Homo sapiens: one gene and its partner. The protein of the gene in region 1 interacts with the protein of each later gene in a pairwise test. Each region holds a gene or a part of one and is shown in the gene's direction. Other genes may lie near its edges.

What was found. Proteins that work in one complex are often made in the same cells at the same time.
Region 2: the proteins of TACC3 (region 1) and ARHGDIG interact in binary tests that used the Homo sapiens proteins (3 or more experiments, as listed by UniProt).

Annotation. Positions count from the first base shown.
Region 1 is NC_000004.12:1,738,512-1,745,527, forward strand, and holds the end of TACC3 (transforming acidic coiled-coil-containing protein 3), read left to right. Parts: exon of another isoform or gene 1-1,187; coding exon of another isoform or gene 1,188-1,190; coding exon 1,191-1,267; exon of another isoform or gene 1,268-1,447; coding exon 1,448-1,491; exon of another isoform or gene 1,492-1,970; coding exon of another isoform or gene 1,971-2,050; exon of another isoform or gene 2,051-2,314; coding exon 2,315-2,475; intron 2,476-4,883; exon of another isoform or gene 4,884-5,026; intron 5,027-6,006; coding exon 6,007-6,113; intron 6,114-6,200; coding exon 6,201-6,321; intron 6,322-6,403; coding exon of another isoform or gene 6,404-6,436; coding exon 6,437-6,502; 3' UTR 6,503-6,660; downstream 6,661-7,016. UniProt on the Homo sapiens protein: Plays a role in the microtubule-dependent coupling of the nucleus and the centrosome. Involved in the processes that regulate centrosome-mediated interkinetic nuclear migration (INM) of neural progenitors.
Region 2 is NC_000016.10:276,118-283,523, forward strand, and holds ARHGDIG (rho GDP-dissociation inhibitor 3), read left to right. Parts: upstream 1-4,473; 5' UTR 4,474-4,563; coding exon 4,564-4,636; intron 4,637-5,628; coding exon 5,629-5,808; intron 5,809-5,907; coding exon 5,908-5,991; intron 5,992-6,179; coding exon 6,180-6,256; intron 6,257-6,349; coding exon 6,350-6,413; intron 6,414-6,497; coding exon 6,498-6,697; 3' UTR 6,698-6,893; downstream 6,894-7,406. Other genes in the region: PDIA2 (protein disulfide-isomerase A2 precursor), read left to right, coding at 7,053-7,251. UniProt on the Homo sapiens protein: Inhibits GDP/GTP exchange reaction of RhoB. Interacts specifically with the GDP- and GTP-bound forms of post-translationally processed Rhob and Rhog proteins, both of which show a growth-regulated expression in mammalian cells.

The DNA of each region.
Region 1 (7,016 bases):
TGGCCCCTGCATGTAACTTATGTTAGAAATGCACAATGCTTGTTCTCTGGTGCCACAAAGAAATAGTGCTCGAACATTAATTTTCTCAGCAAGGCAGTTTTTACTTTCTGCAGAAAGGGTGCCCCTCGCAGATGGAGCAATGGCAAGAGCACACCTGAACAAGGGAGGGGAAGGGGTTCTTATTCCTGACACAGGTAGCCCTACTGCTGTGTTGTTCCCCTGTTGGCTAAGGTTGGACCACACAGTCTAAGCCAATTCCAATTGGCTATTTTAAAGAGGGCAGGGTAAGAGTCAGAGTGGTGGGGTGAGTAGTTTGACGGGAAGGACGGTTAGGAACAGGTAACTCAAGGTGACTTAGGTCAGAGCAGGTGACCGGGATGAGTCAGGATGGAGCAGGTGACCAGGGAACAGATGTGAACTACTGATTAGGACTGGCGGGAAAATTGTTTACTGAAACTAGAAGCAAGGGGCGAAGAGAACCAGGAATTTTAAATGGAGAATCAAAGAAGAGATCTGGCCGGGTGCAGTGGGTCACGCCTGTAATCCCAGTACTTTGGGAGGCCGAGGTGGGCGGATCACGAGGTCAAGAGATGGAGACCATCCTGGCTAACACGGTGAAACCCTGTCTCTACTAAAAAATACAAAAATTAGCCGGGCGTGGTGGTGGGCACCTGTAGTCCCACCTACTCGGGAGGCCGAAGCAAGACAATGGCTTGAACCCGGGAGGCGGAGCTTGCAGCAAGCAGAGATCACGTGACTGCACTCCAGCCTGGGCGACAGAGTGAGACTCTTGTCTCAAAAAAAAAAAAAGAGATCTGAACATACTGACTTACTGATTCTTTGAAGACAAACTTGGAGTTCACTATATTTAACACTTAGGACCCCTAGTATCTGCCACTGGGCTGCGGGGGCAGCTGCAGGGACACACACCTGTTGGGTGCCTGCTGGTTCCACCCAGGAGCACAGCCAGCAGCCTCATGCCTCCTGCCCCCTGGCAGTCGGGTGCACGTGGAGCAGGTGGCCTTGGCCTCGACAGGGTTCCCAGGGTCCCACTGGAAGCCCCACATGGAACTGTGCCTCTGGGACATTGCTCCAGGGACCTCGGGTGCGGGCTGGCCCCATCCTGTGGGGAGGTCCTGGGAGGGTCAGTCTGGCCCGCCTGCCTGCTGACTTGGGTGTGGCCTGAGCAGGTAAAGGCGACACAGGAGGAGAACCGGGAGCTGAGGAGCAGGTGTGAGGAGCTCCACGGGAAGAACCTGGAACTGGGGTAAGGAGGCCCCGTCTCCTGTCCTCCCCGTCCCCATCCCCCTCGCCATCCTTGTCCCCATCCCCCTCGCCATCCTTGTCCCCATCCCCCTCGCCATCCCTGTCCCCGTCCCCATCCCCACCTGGCCTGGGACCGCTGGGCACCCGAGGCAATGGCTGTGTGTCTGTTCTCCTCCCACAGGAAGATCATGGACAGGTTCGAAGAGGTTGTGTACCAGGCCATGGGTGAGTGCCCGGGCCACCGAGGCCACGTGCCTCCACGAGGGGCTGCCTATGCCCCACCCTGGCCCTGCCCTGCACCCTGCCTAGGACCCCACCCTCCTGAGGCCCCTTTTCCTAACACACGAGTCCCTTCAACATGGGCCCGGCCGTGGAAGCACTGAGGCGAGTTGCGGGGAAGCTGGTGGTAGTGAGGCTGGTGGCTCCCACGGAGCCAGGGCTTGGCAGGCCCCACAGTTGTGCAGATGCTGAGCTAGCAGTGGGGCTGTGGTGGGAGCAGAGTCTGTCCCGCCGTGGCCTACCCCACTCCACCCTGCCCTCGCCGTGCGGCTATGTCTAGCAGCAGCCTCTGTAGGTGTCTGGCAGGACGGGAACACCAGGCCTCATCTGGCCTCCCAAAAGCTTGGGCTCCTGGAGGTGCTACTGTGGGGATCTGTCTTAGGCTGAGTGTCAGCCGGCGGCAGGTGACCGCCTGGCCCTTGCAGTCCCTCCAGGACCACCACGAAGCACGACGCACATCCTGGAGCTCGCCATACCGGCTCCCAGGCCTCACCCTAGGCTCTAGGGTGTTGGGCGCCGCCTCTTCAGGGACCTCTGGCCCAGGCTCCAGTTCCCTGCGGATCTGATGTGGAGGAAACAGCTGTTTCCTGGGCTTTGCATCCGGCCTAGAAGATCCTGGGTGGAGGGACCCATCACCCTCCGAGGCTCACACCCACTGCCCACCTCTCCTCCTGGCGCTCGAGTCCCTTGCCTCATTCCTTGGGCTGTCTCTGGCACCCATCGTTTCGGTTGCCTCCTCATCCTGAACGTTTGCTTTTCTTTTCTCAAGAGGAAGTTCAGAAGCAGAAGGAACTTTCCAAAGCTGAAATCCAGAAAGTTCTAAAAGAAAAAGACCAACTTACCACAGATCTGAACTCCATGGAGAAGTCCTTCTCCGACCTCTTCAAGCGTTTTGAGAAACAGAAAGAGGTGATCGAGGGCTACCGCAAGGTATGTCTCCGCCACCCTGGTGTCCTCACCTCGGAGGCTGATGGACTCATGGTCCAAGCCAGCGGGGCTACAAGCTGCTGTCTTTGCACCTTGGTCCTTGGCCAAGCCTCCCCTTGCCACGGGGGCATGGGATGACCTGTGAACGAGACAGGGTGCAGGAGTCACAGCATAGCTGGTTTGCGAGGCAGCTGAGGGCGGCAGGAGGCAGAGTGAGCAGGGAGGCCATCTGAGCCGTCCGCTGTTGTGTGACAGACGACTCGGCTATGATCAGGCATCTGTGAGATTTGAGACAGCGCTGGTGCACCGGGGCCTGGGGCACCTCGGAAAGGTGTCTGGGCTGTCCGAGCGCTTGGGTCCCAAGGGTTGGGGACCCAGGGCATGCAGTATCCAAGGCGGGAGGCCCACTGAAAGGTGGTCACGGCTGTGCAAGGCCACCCTGGTGTCCTCCTGGCCACGGGACTCTGAGCGCCCCCCACCTTCTGTGCTGGGCAAGGCCCACATGCTTGCTGGAAGGAGGGATGTCTGGGCCATCCATCTGCCCAGAGCAGGCCTGGAAGGTGCCTGCGAGGCCGCCAGAGGGTTCTGCCCACAGCAGCAATGTTGGAGCGGAGGTGCTCAACGCCTCCTGTGGAGGAGCTGGACCTGCAGGTGCAGCTGGAAGAGGGGCTGTCACTGTTGGTGCAAGGGGGTTGGGGACACCAGATGGGTCCCCTGGGAGTCAGACTAAACTGGAAAAGCGGCCCTTGCAGGGCCTGCTGAGCCACACCTCATCTGAGTCCTGAAGTCAGGTGGGTGTCAGTGGCTGGGGCCCAGCTGCCTAACAGAAGCAAGCCTGAATACTCTAGGGAAGAAGGTATCTTATGCTTTAAATTGCTGCTGCAGTTTTAAATTAGTGTCTGGCACAGAATAACCAAGTGTGAAAGGAACAGGAAACATGAGTGAAAATCAGACCCGTTATTAGAGTGAGGCATGGTGATGTACACCTGTGGTCCCAGCTACTAGGGAGGCTGAGGTGGGAGGATCATTTGAGCCCGGGAGGTCGAAGCTGCAGTGAGCCATGATTGTATCACTGCACCCCCAGCCTGGGCAATAGACCAAGACCCCCATCTCTAAAATTAAAAAACAAAAACAAAAACTGTTGATAGACCCACAGGAGCCCCAGACGCTGGAGTTGGCACCGGCAGGTGGTGCCTCAGGTCTGCAGGGAGCAGATGGGAAGGGCCCTGTGGCAGCAGAGTGCCCACCGGCAGCAGAGTACAGCAGTCTGGCCCAGCACAGACGCTTGGAGAGGCAGGACTCTTCACACGGTGCTGCTGGCTTGAGGACACAGCGGCTTTGCTGACCTTCCCTCAGGTTGGGCTGTGGTGTGAGCAGCTGCCTTGGCCTCGCCTCTCCCCGGGGCAGGCCTGTGCCTCAGCTCCCACTGGCCACCTCCCTACTTCCTCATGGAGGCTCCTTTGCACATCTAATCCCATCTTGGACGACCCAGTGCAGACTTTAAAGTAATTGTCTTCTGTATTCAGAAGAGTATTGCTTCAATAGAGACCTTGAAACTAGAAAAGAATCCCCTTCGGGAGACCGAGACGGGTGGATCACTTGAGGTCAGGAGTTCGAGACCAGCCTGGGTTACATGATGAAACTCCGTCTCCTAAAAATACAAAAATTAGCTGGGCAGGGTGGCATTTGCCTGTAGTCCCAGCTACTCAGGAGGCTGAGGTAGGAGAATCACTTGAACCCAGGAAGTAGAGGTTGCAGTGAGCCAAGATCGTGCCACTGCACTCCAGCCTGGGCGACAGAGTGAGACTCCATCTCAAAAAAAAAAAATACAAAAATTAGTTAGGCATGGTGGTGTGCACCTATAGTCCCAGCTACTCAGGAAACTGAGACAGAAAATCATTTGAACCTGGGAGACAGAGGTTGCAGTGAGCCGATATGGCACCATTGCACTCCAGCCTGGGCGACAGAGCGAGACTCTCTCAGAAAACAAAAAATACAGAAAAACTAGGCCGGCTTATGCCTGTAATCCCAGCACTTTGGGAGGCCAAGGCGGGAGGATCATGAGGTCAGGAGTTCAAGACCATTCTGGCCAACATGGTGAAACCCTTTCTGTACTAAAAATACAAAAATTAGCTGGGCATGGTGGCAGGCACCTGTAGTCCCAGCTACTTGGGAGGCTGAGGCAGGAGAATCAATCAGGAGGTGGAGGTTGCAATGAGCCAAGATCGCGCCATCACACTATGGCCTGGCGATAGAGCGAGACTCCGTCTCAAAAAAAAAAAAAAAAAAGCCTGGGCACAGTGGCTCACGCCTGTAATCCCAGCACTTTGGGAGGCCGAGGCGGGTGGATCACGAGATCAGGAGTTTGAGACCAGCCTGACCAACATGGTGAAACCCTGTCTCTTCTAAAGATACAAAAATTAGCCGGGCATGGTGGCACGCACCTGTAGTCCCAGCTACTTGTGAGGCTGAGGCAGGAGAATCGCTTGAATCCGGGAGGCGGAGGTTGCAGTGAGCCGAGATCATGCCACTTCACTCCAGCCTGAGTGACAGAGTGAGTCTCCGTCTAAAAAAAAAAAACAGAAACTAGAAAAGAACCAAATGGAAATTTCTAACAGGTACACAGTTAACAACATTAACAATTCAAAGGGTACAGGTCAGATGAGGGAAGCAGAGGCTGAGTTGGGAACCAGTGTGTGGACGGCAGCCCCCAGAGCCAGAGGGAGAGACGCCGCTGTGGCGGGAGGCTTGACCTGTGCACACGTGAGAGCTTCCGGATGCCGCCTCCCGGACAGACGCTGTTGGGAATTTTCCACAGCAGAGAAACACAGTGCTGTGGGTTTAAGGGAGGCGTGACCTCCGCAGGACATCAGGGGCTGCATGCTGGGTAGGGGCTCAGGGAGAGGCTGCAGTGCTGAGGGTGCTTCTGGGATACAGGGCTGCGACAGAGGAGTGAGGATGGCTGGGCTGTGAGGCCGCTGGGGGCACTGCAGGAAGAAGGCAGGTAGGCTGAGCCTTCCCAAGCAGAGGCCACTCGGGGACCCAGGAACCCCTCAGTTAGGGCTTCTCAGTCACTGAGCGGAAGGTGCCCCCAGAGGGGGCAGCAGCCTGTGAGGAGCAGGCGTGTCTGGGTAACCATGTGGCTCCTGCTGGCCTCCCCTGCCTGTCCCCAAAGCACAGGGCTCAGCTCCAGAGGGAGACGGGCTGGGCTGTCAGTGGTCCCAGGTGCATCCCACTTTCCAGCAGCACTTGGTGCCAGCAGAGGCTGCAGGTGTGGCAGGAGGGGGCCCAGCCGTGAGGGCACCAGGTTCAGGCCCGGCATCTCAGGGTGGAGAGCCAGGGCTGTCCTGAACCTCCAGAGGGGGTGAGCTGGGAACTTGTGTGAAGGGGCTTTTTCCAAAAGGAAAACGGGAGCTACTGGCTCACGGCTGATGCCCCAGACAGCCTCGAGGATCTGCAGGTCCCCAGACACCAAGCCTGGGTGCTCTCCAGCAGACGGCGTGGTACCCACAGCTAATGCCTGCCCCTTCCTAGAACGAAGAGTCACTGAAGAAGTGCGTGGAGGATTACCTGGCAAGGATCACCCAGGAGGGCCAGAGGTACCAAGCCCTGAAGGCCCACGCGGAGGAGAAGCTGCAGCTGTGAGTGCTGGGCGAGGCCCCACCCTGGAGGGAGAATCTGAGCACCTGGGCCCCAGCTCAGCCTCTGCCCCGCCCCTACCCCTCCAGGGCAAACGAGGAGATCGCCCAGGTCCGGAGCAAGGCCCAGGCGGAAGCGTTGGCCCTCCAGGCCAGCCTGAGGAAGGAGCAGATGCGCATCCAGTCGCTGGAGAAGACAGTGGAGCAGAAGGTGGGTGCGGGAAGCCCAGCTCAAGGGGCCGTCTGGCAGCACCTTCTAGAAGGCCCTTGGGCCTGCTGCTCCCTCCAAGCAGGGAGAAGCCCCGCAACTCATCTTCCTCCTCCAGACTAAAGAGAACGAGGAGCTGACCAGGATCTGCGACGACCTCATCTCCAAGATGGAGAAGATCTGACCTCCACGGAGCCGCTGTCCCCGCCCCCCTGCTCCCGTCTGTCTGTCCTGTCTGATTCTCTTAGGTGTCATGTTCTTTTTTCTGTCTTGTCTTCAACTTTTTTAAAAACTAGATTGCTTTGAAAACATGACTCAATAAAAGTTTCCTTTCAATTTAAACACTGAAGCCGCTCTGGTCTTGATGAAGCAAAGGTTTCCCAGCTCTAGCCTGAGGCTGAGCCGACCCGCAGGTGCCCTCCCTTCCCCTCAGAGCTGGCCACTTGGTCCCTGCCTACCCCAGGCTCAGGCCACCCTGCCGAGGGGCAGGGACAGCCAGTGGATAGAGGAGGCTCAGGCCTGCCCAGTCTGCCCCGGCCACCTCGGGTTGGCTACATGGTCCTGGCCTCAGGTACACACATCAAAGTCCAAATGGACTCGTTTTTTTGTTTGTTTTTTTGTTTTTTGTTTTTTTTGAGACAGTCTCTCACCCACGCTGGAGTGCAGTGGCGTGAACTCGGCTCACTGTAAGCTCCGCC
Region 2 (7,406 bases), on another chromosome or scaffold:
CGCTGAGGCCCTCGTGGGTGAAGGCGAAGTGGGACGGGGGAGGGTGTGGGCCGGGGGCCGAGGGGGGATGTGAGGGGATGGAGCTCAGCTGGAGCAGGGGGTGGTCTCTGGGAGAGGCAGAGGGGCTCATCAGCGAGGGGGGGTTACTATGGGGAGGGTCTCAGGGAGGGCAGCGGAGGGGATGGGGGTTCAGAGAGGGAGAGGGGTTCCGTGAGTAGAGGAGACCCGTAGGGAGAGTGAACTGGGGTGGGAAACGTGGTTTAGGGCCCACTGTAACCCCGGTCCTATGTGTGGGGCCCTGAGGACATACAGGGACTAGAGGCCTGGCTGTGGGGCCGGGGCCAGGGCCAGCGGTATGACTGCCCGAGGCCTTGTGTCCTGCGATGCTTGTGGCCAAGACTGCATACATTGCTGTGACGGTGGCTGGTTAGGGGCAGGGTGCATGAGAGATTGGGTCAGCTTTCTACATGGGCCGGATGCCGGCTGTCAGTGGAGCACGTGGCTGCTGCAGAGTGTGACCCAGCTGTCCCCATCTCCTGCTGTGGGTCCCTTATCCGGGGTCCTTCCGGGAAAGTGGCTGATGGCTCATGGCTCACTTCCCTCAGCTCCACGCAGGCCTGGGTGGCCCGCTGGGGAATGAGCAGAAACCCTGCCCAGGGCACCCTGACACTGTTGGAGAGGAGCTTTACTGCAGGGAGGCCCTCAACACACACCCACTTAGTGTCACCGGCGGCCGCCAGGCTTCAGGCCCCACTCCACTCCCAGCTCTCTCCCTCCTCCAATGGCTATGCCTGTCCCCCAGGTGCACCCCGAGCCAGGCCCAGGATCTTCAGGCCCCACCGGGCAGTCTCGGCTCACTGCAACCTCCGCCTCCTGAATTCAAGCAATTCTCATGCCTCAGCCTCCTGAGTAGCTGGGATTACAGGCTCCCACCACCACGCCTGGCTAATTTTTATTTTTGTTTTTGTTTTTGAGACGGAGTCTCACTGTGTCACCCAAGCTGGAGTGCAGTGATGCGGTCTTGGCTCACTGCAGCCTCCGCCTCCTGGGTTCCAGCGATTCTCCTGTCTCAGCCTCCTAGGTAGCTGGGATTACAGGCACGCGCCACCACACCCAGCTAATTTTTGTATTTTTAGTAGAGATAGGGATTCACCACGTTGGCCAGGCTGGTTTCGAACTCCTGACCTCAGGTGATGTGCCTGCCTTGGCCTCCCAAAGTGCTAGGCTTATAGGTGTGAGCCACTGTGCCTGGCCGATTTTGGTATGTTTAGTAGAGATGGGGTTTCACCATGTTGGCCAGGCTGGTCTCAAACTCCTGACTTCAGGTGATCCACCTGCCTTGGCCTCCCAAAGTTCTGGGATGACAGGTGTGAGCCACCACACCCGGTCGGATCATTTTTTAAAAACTAAGTCGAGGTCTCACTATGTTGCCCAAGGTGGTCACAAACTCCTGGGCTCAGTCCATCCTCCTGCCTCAGCTTCCCAGCGTGCTGGGATTAAAGGCATGCCCAGCCAGCATCTTTTTTTTTTTTTTTTTTTTGAGACTGAGTCTTGCTCTGTCAGGCTGGAGTGCAATGGCGCAATCTCGTCTCACTGCAACCTCCTCCTCCCAGATTCAAGCAATTCTCCTGCCTCAGCCTCCTGAGTAGCTGAGATTACAGGCCCCCGCCACCACGCTTGGCTAATTTTTGTATTTTTAGTAGAGACAGCATTTCACCTTGTTGGCCAGGCTGGTCTTGAACTCCTGACCTTAGGCGATCTGCCCACCTCGGCCTCCCGAAGTGCTGGGATTACAGGCCTGAGCCACCGAGCCCAGCCTCAGCACCATTTTTAAAAGGTGCAAATGCATCTATTTCTGCTTGCTTTCTTTATTTTTTAAATTATTTATTTATTTATTTTGAGATGGAGTTTCACTCTTGTTGCCTAGGCTGGAGTGCAATGGTGCAATCTCGGGTCACTGCAACCTCCGCCTCCTGGGTTCAAGCGATTCTCTTGCCTCAGCTCCCAAGTAGGTGGGATCAGAGGCATGCGCCACCATGCCCGGCTAATTTTTTTTTTTGTTTTTTTTTTTGCATTTTTAGTAGAGATGGGGTTTCACCGTGTTGGCCAGGCTGGTATCAAACTTCCTGACCTCAAGTGATCCACCTGCCTTGGCCTCCCAAAGTGCTGGGATTACAGGCATGAGCCACCGCACCTGGCCACTAATTTTTTTTTTAATTTCATTTTTATTTTTGTAGATAAATATACACGTAGCCCCTCGCTTATCCCTGTCTGTAAGGGCCTCAGTTTCTTGCTGTGTTGCCTAGGCTGGCTGATCTTGAACTCCTGGCCTCAAGTGATCCTCCTGCCTCAGCCTCCCAAATGTTGGGATTACAGGCATGAGCCATGGCACCTGGCTATGTATTTATTTTTTGAGAGATGGCAGTCTCATTCTGTCACCCAGGCTGGAGTGCAGTGGTGCAATCATAAACTCATTGCAGCCTCAAACTCCTGAGCTCAAGTGATTCTCCCACCCCAGCGTCCTGAGTAGCTGGGACTACAGATGTGTACCACCGCATCTGGTCTATTTCTGCTTTCTTGGAGGCAGAGTACCTCTCCCCATCCTTACCCACTCAGAGGGTGCTAGGGGCTGGGCAGGGTGGGCGGTTGGCCTTGGGCTGGGAGCCCCTAACATAGTGGTCTGAGTCCATTTCCATTGCCGGAGAGGCCACGTTCAGCATGAGCTGGGGCAGGGGGCTTGTGGGGTCTCTTACTCCAGGGTACCATCTCGCTTGGATCCCAGTGAGCCCTCCCATGCCCCACACCCAGGTGGGGTGAGGTGGCCCAGGTCTGGCTGCCCTGTCTGCAGGGGTGGGCACCCATGGTAGCTGTGAGGCAGAATAGGGAATGAGGGTAGCCAAGGGTTGGGCATAAGAAACGGAACAGCAGGTGCAGCCAGTTCTAGGCAGGATTGGGCAGCTCACAAGCCACATCCTGGCTGCTGTGATAACAAGACAGAAATTTCCACTTCACCTCTGATTGGTCTCGGGCCAATCCTTCATAGGGTGTAGCCAATTGGAGGCCTCTAAAGGGCACAAGGGCTGTGGTCAGGTTTCTTTGCTTAATAAAAATCCTAATTACAGAGGCTCTGGAGCTACTTGCTCCAGCCCACTCCCACTCTGTGAATTGCCTTCCGTTAAATCTGTGCTTTCCTTACTCCGTTCTTCTGACTCAGTTTTGTTTCCTTGTGTTTCGTTGTTCTTTTGTTACTTTGTGCGTTTTGTTCAATTCTTTGTTCAACCCACCAAGAACCTGGACAACTCACCTCCAAGACCTTCTATCTGGTAACAGCTGCAGGAGCTGGAGCTGTGGGCCTGGGGACAAGTGTCCTAACAGCCCCCGCTCCCTGCAGCGAAGGGTCAGCAGAGGTGGCGCTCTAGGGGGGCCTGGGCACAAGTTCATAGGATCCTGCCCTGGAAAGGTTGTGGGCAGTTGGGGGGCAAGGGAGACAGTCCCCACCCAAACCCCAATGCCCCCTAGCACCCAAGGTGGTCTTCTCTCAATTGAGGAGCTCTTTGGCAAGGGCGGGTCTAATTTCTGGTGTCCCTGGAACCGGCCAGGGGTGTCTAAGAAAGGGACTCAGGCTGGTGTTCGGACCCCTTCTCCCTTATCCAGACGCAGGCCTTTGGTCCAGCTGTCCCAGCCAGGGCCTGCTCACCCCTGTCCCCTGCCGGGTCCCATCCCCCCCACCCACCCACAGGTCTCAGTTTAGGTGTCAATATCAGAAGCCCCCTCTGTGCTCCGGTCTCTGTACTCCGCCCCCTTGTCAGTGTCCTCTCCCTGAGGACAGGGGGCTCGGTAACTGGGTTTCCAAGAGCCCTGCAGGGACACCCCCTCTTGGGAACTCACACAGCGCAGCCAGGTCGCTAAGCCTTTGAGGGGCCCTTGTTGCCTCCTGGGTGTGCGTGCGACCCGCGCCCACTGTGGTCCCGCCCTACTGATGACCGTGAACCTGTAGGGTGTTGGGCCAGCCCCTCACCCCAAGGCTGGGCAGGCCCCCGGAGTCCCCCTCGGCCCAGACAGAAGCTCCCTCAGGAGCGGGGGAGGGGAAGGGGGCGCGCGGTCCGGCCCCAGGTGTGGCCGCGGATAATGAGACCCTGGGGATGGGGGCGCACCTGCGCCACGGCGCCCCGCAGAGGGTTTCCCAGGAGACCCCCTCGGGCTCCCGCCGCGCCGTGGGGGTGGGGCAGCCCTGCTGGCCAGAGCCGGGCACGGGCCGGGCGGGCGGCGGGGATCGTGACCGCGGCTGCGTGCGTCCGCGTCCGGGCGCTTCTGTGCGGGGTCCTGGCACGCCGGCGGGGGCGACCCGGGTGCCGGCCCGTGCGGGCGACACGCGCGTCTCTGCGGGGCTGCGCGGGGTCCGGAGCGGCTGGGGGCTCTCTGCCGGGCGCGGCTGGGCGCGGGGGGCGCTCCCGGCCGGGATGAGCTCACCGCAGTCGCGCCGGGGCTGAGCGCCGAGCGGGGCGGCGGCGGGGCGGGCGGCGGCTCCTCGGCGGCTCCGCGGCGCCCGGGCCGCGCGCCGCCATGCTGGGCCTGGACGCGTGCGAGCTGGGGGCGCAGCTGCTGGAGCTGCTCCGGCTGGCGCTGTGCGCCCGAGGTGAGCGGGCCGGGCAGGGGCGGGGGGCTCGGCTGGTCTCAGCCCCGGGCGGGGAGTAGCCCCTCCCCCGCGGCAACTTTGGGGGCGCGCATGGGGACCTCGCGGCGCCGACCCCCCGGCTGGGGTCTGGCAGGGGTGGGGGACTTCATCCAGGCTCCAGCCCTGTGGGGAAGGGACCAGGTGCGGACGGGTCGGCTTGGGAAGCGGCGGCGCTGGGACCCTCTCCCCCTGGACACCGCCGCCTGGAGCCCCTCTGTCTTGGGTGGGGCTGGGGCTGGGGCTCAGGCTCTGTAGGGCGTGTGGTGATCCCCGAGAAGACGGGAGCGAAGTGGGCAGGGACTCAGAAACCCCTGCCCAGGGCACCAGGGAGAGGGGCTTCAGGAGGCCACCAGCCCGGGGCGCCATGGGAGGCGGCGCAGAGCCTGAGCCCAGGGATTTGGAGACAGCCGCCCCCGGCACCCGAGCACCATGGGGAGGAACTCCTAGACTGTGGGAAAGTGTTCAGAGACCCCAGTCCAGAGCAGGGTGGTGGAGGGCCCTAGAGGGTCAGTAGGCTTGGGGGGCCGCCGAGGGCCCTAGAGGGTCAGTAGGTTTGGGGGCCGCCGAGGGCCCTAGAGGGTCAGTAGGTTTGGGGGCCGCCGAGGGCCGCTGCTCTCTAGCAGGTAGCCCCTGACCCTGGGCTGCCCTCATCTGAAGTCTTCGCTCCCCCGCCCTTTGGTCTCCGAGTCAGGGAGGGGGCCCTTGTGGACATCTGGGCCAGAGGAGCTGCAGGCCTGGCGGTCTCTGGAGGCCCCTCCTGAAGGTCTGGGTGCGGTGCGGCACCTCCCCAGGCCGCCCTGCTCTCTCTGCTCGCTCTCTCCCTGAGCCCCCAGAGGCTTCCCTTGAGTCCCTTTGGATAGTGGGAGGTACAGCTGGCCAGAGGGGGCTCCAGCCTGGTGCTCGAATGCCAGGGTCCGCTAGTGGCTGCTGCTCACGCCCCTCCCCACCCCCAGTCCTCCTGGCTGACAAGGAGGGTGGGCCGCCGGCAGTGGACGAGGTGTTGGATGAGGCTGTGCCCGAGTACCGGGCGCCGGGGAGGAAGAGCCTCTTGGAGATCCGGCAGCTGGACCCGGACGACAGGAGCCTGGCCAAGTACAAGCGGGTGCTGCTGGGGCCCCTGCCACCGGCCGTGGGTATGGCAGGGGTCTAGGCTTGGAGGGCTGGGTCTGGGGGGCTGGTGAGGAGCCTGGTGGGGGTGGGGGGCATCCTGCAGACTTCCAGTTTCTCCTCAGACCCAAGCCTGCCCAATGTGCAGGTGACCAGGCTGACACTCCTGTCGGAACAGGCTCCGGGGCCCGTCGTCATGGATCTCACAGGTAACTCGCAGGATGCTGCACCCTGAACACAGGTAGGGCCCTCCCAGGCACGCTTCTGCACCCCTGAGTTCCGAGCCCTGGGCCATCACAGTCGCACACCTCATGGGTACCACACCCTACGTGGGGGCTCCTGGAGCAGGTCTCAGCCTGTAGGGGAGTTCCGACCCTAGCTGAGGTTTCCCCAATAGGGGACCTGGCTGTTCTGAAGGACCAGGTGTTTGTCCTGAAGGAAGGTGTTGATTACAGAGTGAAGATCTCCTTCAAGGTGAGAGCCGGGGCAATGGGCGGAGGGGATGGGGGTGGGGGCAACAGCCAGAGGCCTGGCCCCCAGAGGAACCCCTAATGCCTCTGTTCCCAGGTCCACAGGGAGATTGTCAGCGGCCTCAAGTGTCTGCACCACACCTACCGCCGGGGCCTGCGCGGTGAGGGCAGCGGTGGGGGGAACGGGGCGGGGGGGGGAAGCGGGGGCAGACAGAGGACAGCTCTGATGCCCTCGCCCTCCCTAGTGGACAAGACCGTCTACATGGTGGGCAGCTATGGCCCGAGCGCCCAGGAGTATGAGTTTGTGACTCCGGTGGAGGAAGCGCCGAGGGGTGCGCTGGTGCGGGGCCCCTATCTGGTGGTGTCCCTCTTCACCGACGATGACAGGACGCACCACCTGTCCTGGGAGTGGGGTCTCTGCATCTGCCAGGACTGGAAGGACTGAACCCCCAGTCCGTGTCTCCCCTACCTCCCTCAGTTGTTGCACAGGGACCCCCAAGCATCCCCAGCACCCCCCGTGAGTGACCAGACCCTCCCCTGCTGCCCCTGCTGCCCCTGCTGCCCCTGCTCTGTCCCGGGACCCCCTGGCCTGGCGCTGTCCCCTGAGCTGTCCCATTAAACATGGCCCTGTCTCTCTCGGTGCCCTGGGTGTCGTCTCTTTCTGCCTCCCCTCCCCTGGGGGCCGGGGGCGGCCGCATGGGCCTTGTCTTTGCTGGGACTGGGCCTGTGTGCCACGTGGCAGCTGCTGCTTGGCTTCTGGCCCCCTTATCTGCCCCCGCCCCACGCGCCCTGGCAGCACCATGAGCCGCCAGCTTCTGCCTGTACTGCTGCTGCTGCTGCTCAGGGCTTCGTGCCCATGGGGTCAGGAACAGGGAGCGAGGAGCCCCTCGGAGGAGCCTCCAGAGGAGGAAATCCCCAAGGAGGATGGGATCTTGGTGCTGAGCCGCCACACCCTGGGCCTGGCCCTGCGGGAGCACCCTGCCCTGCTGGTGGAATTCTGTGAGTGCTGGGGCCAGTGGGGCTGGGGACCGGCGGGGGACCGGCAGAGCCCACCTGGGGGCCCCACCCTTTGCCGGCAAATGCAGGGCATGTGCCCAAGAGGGGCCTCCCCGCAGGCACTTGCCCCCACTGTGCCCAGGAGCTCTCTAGGAGGG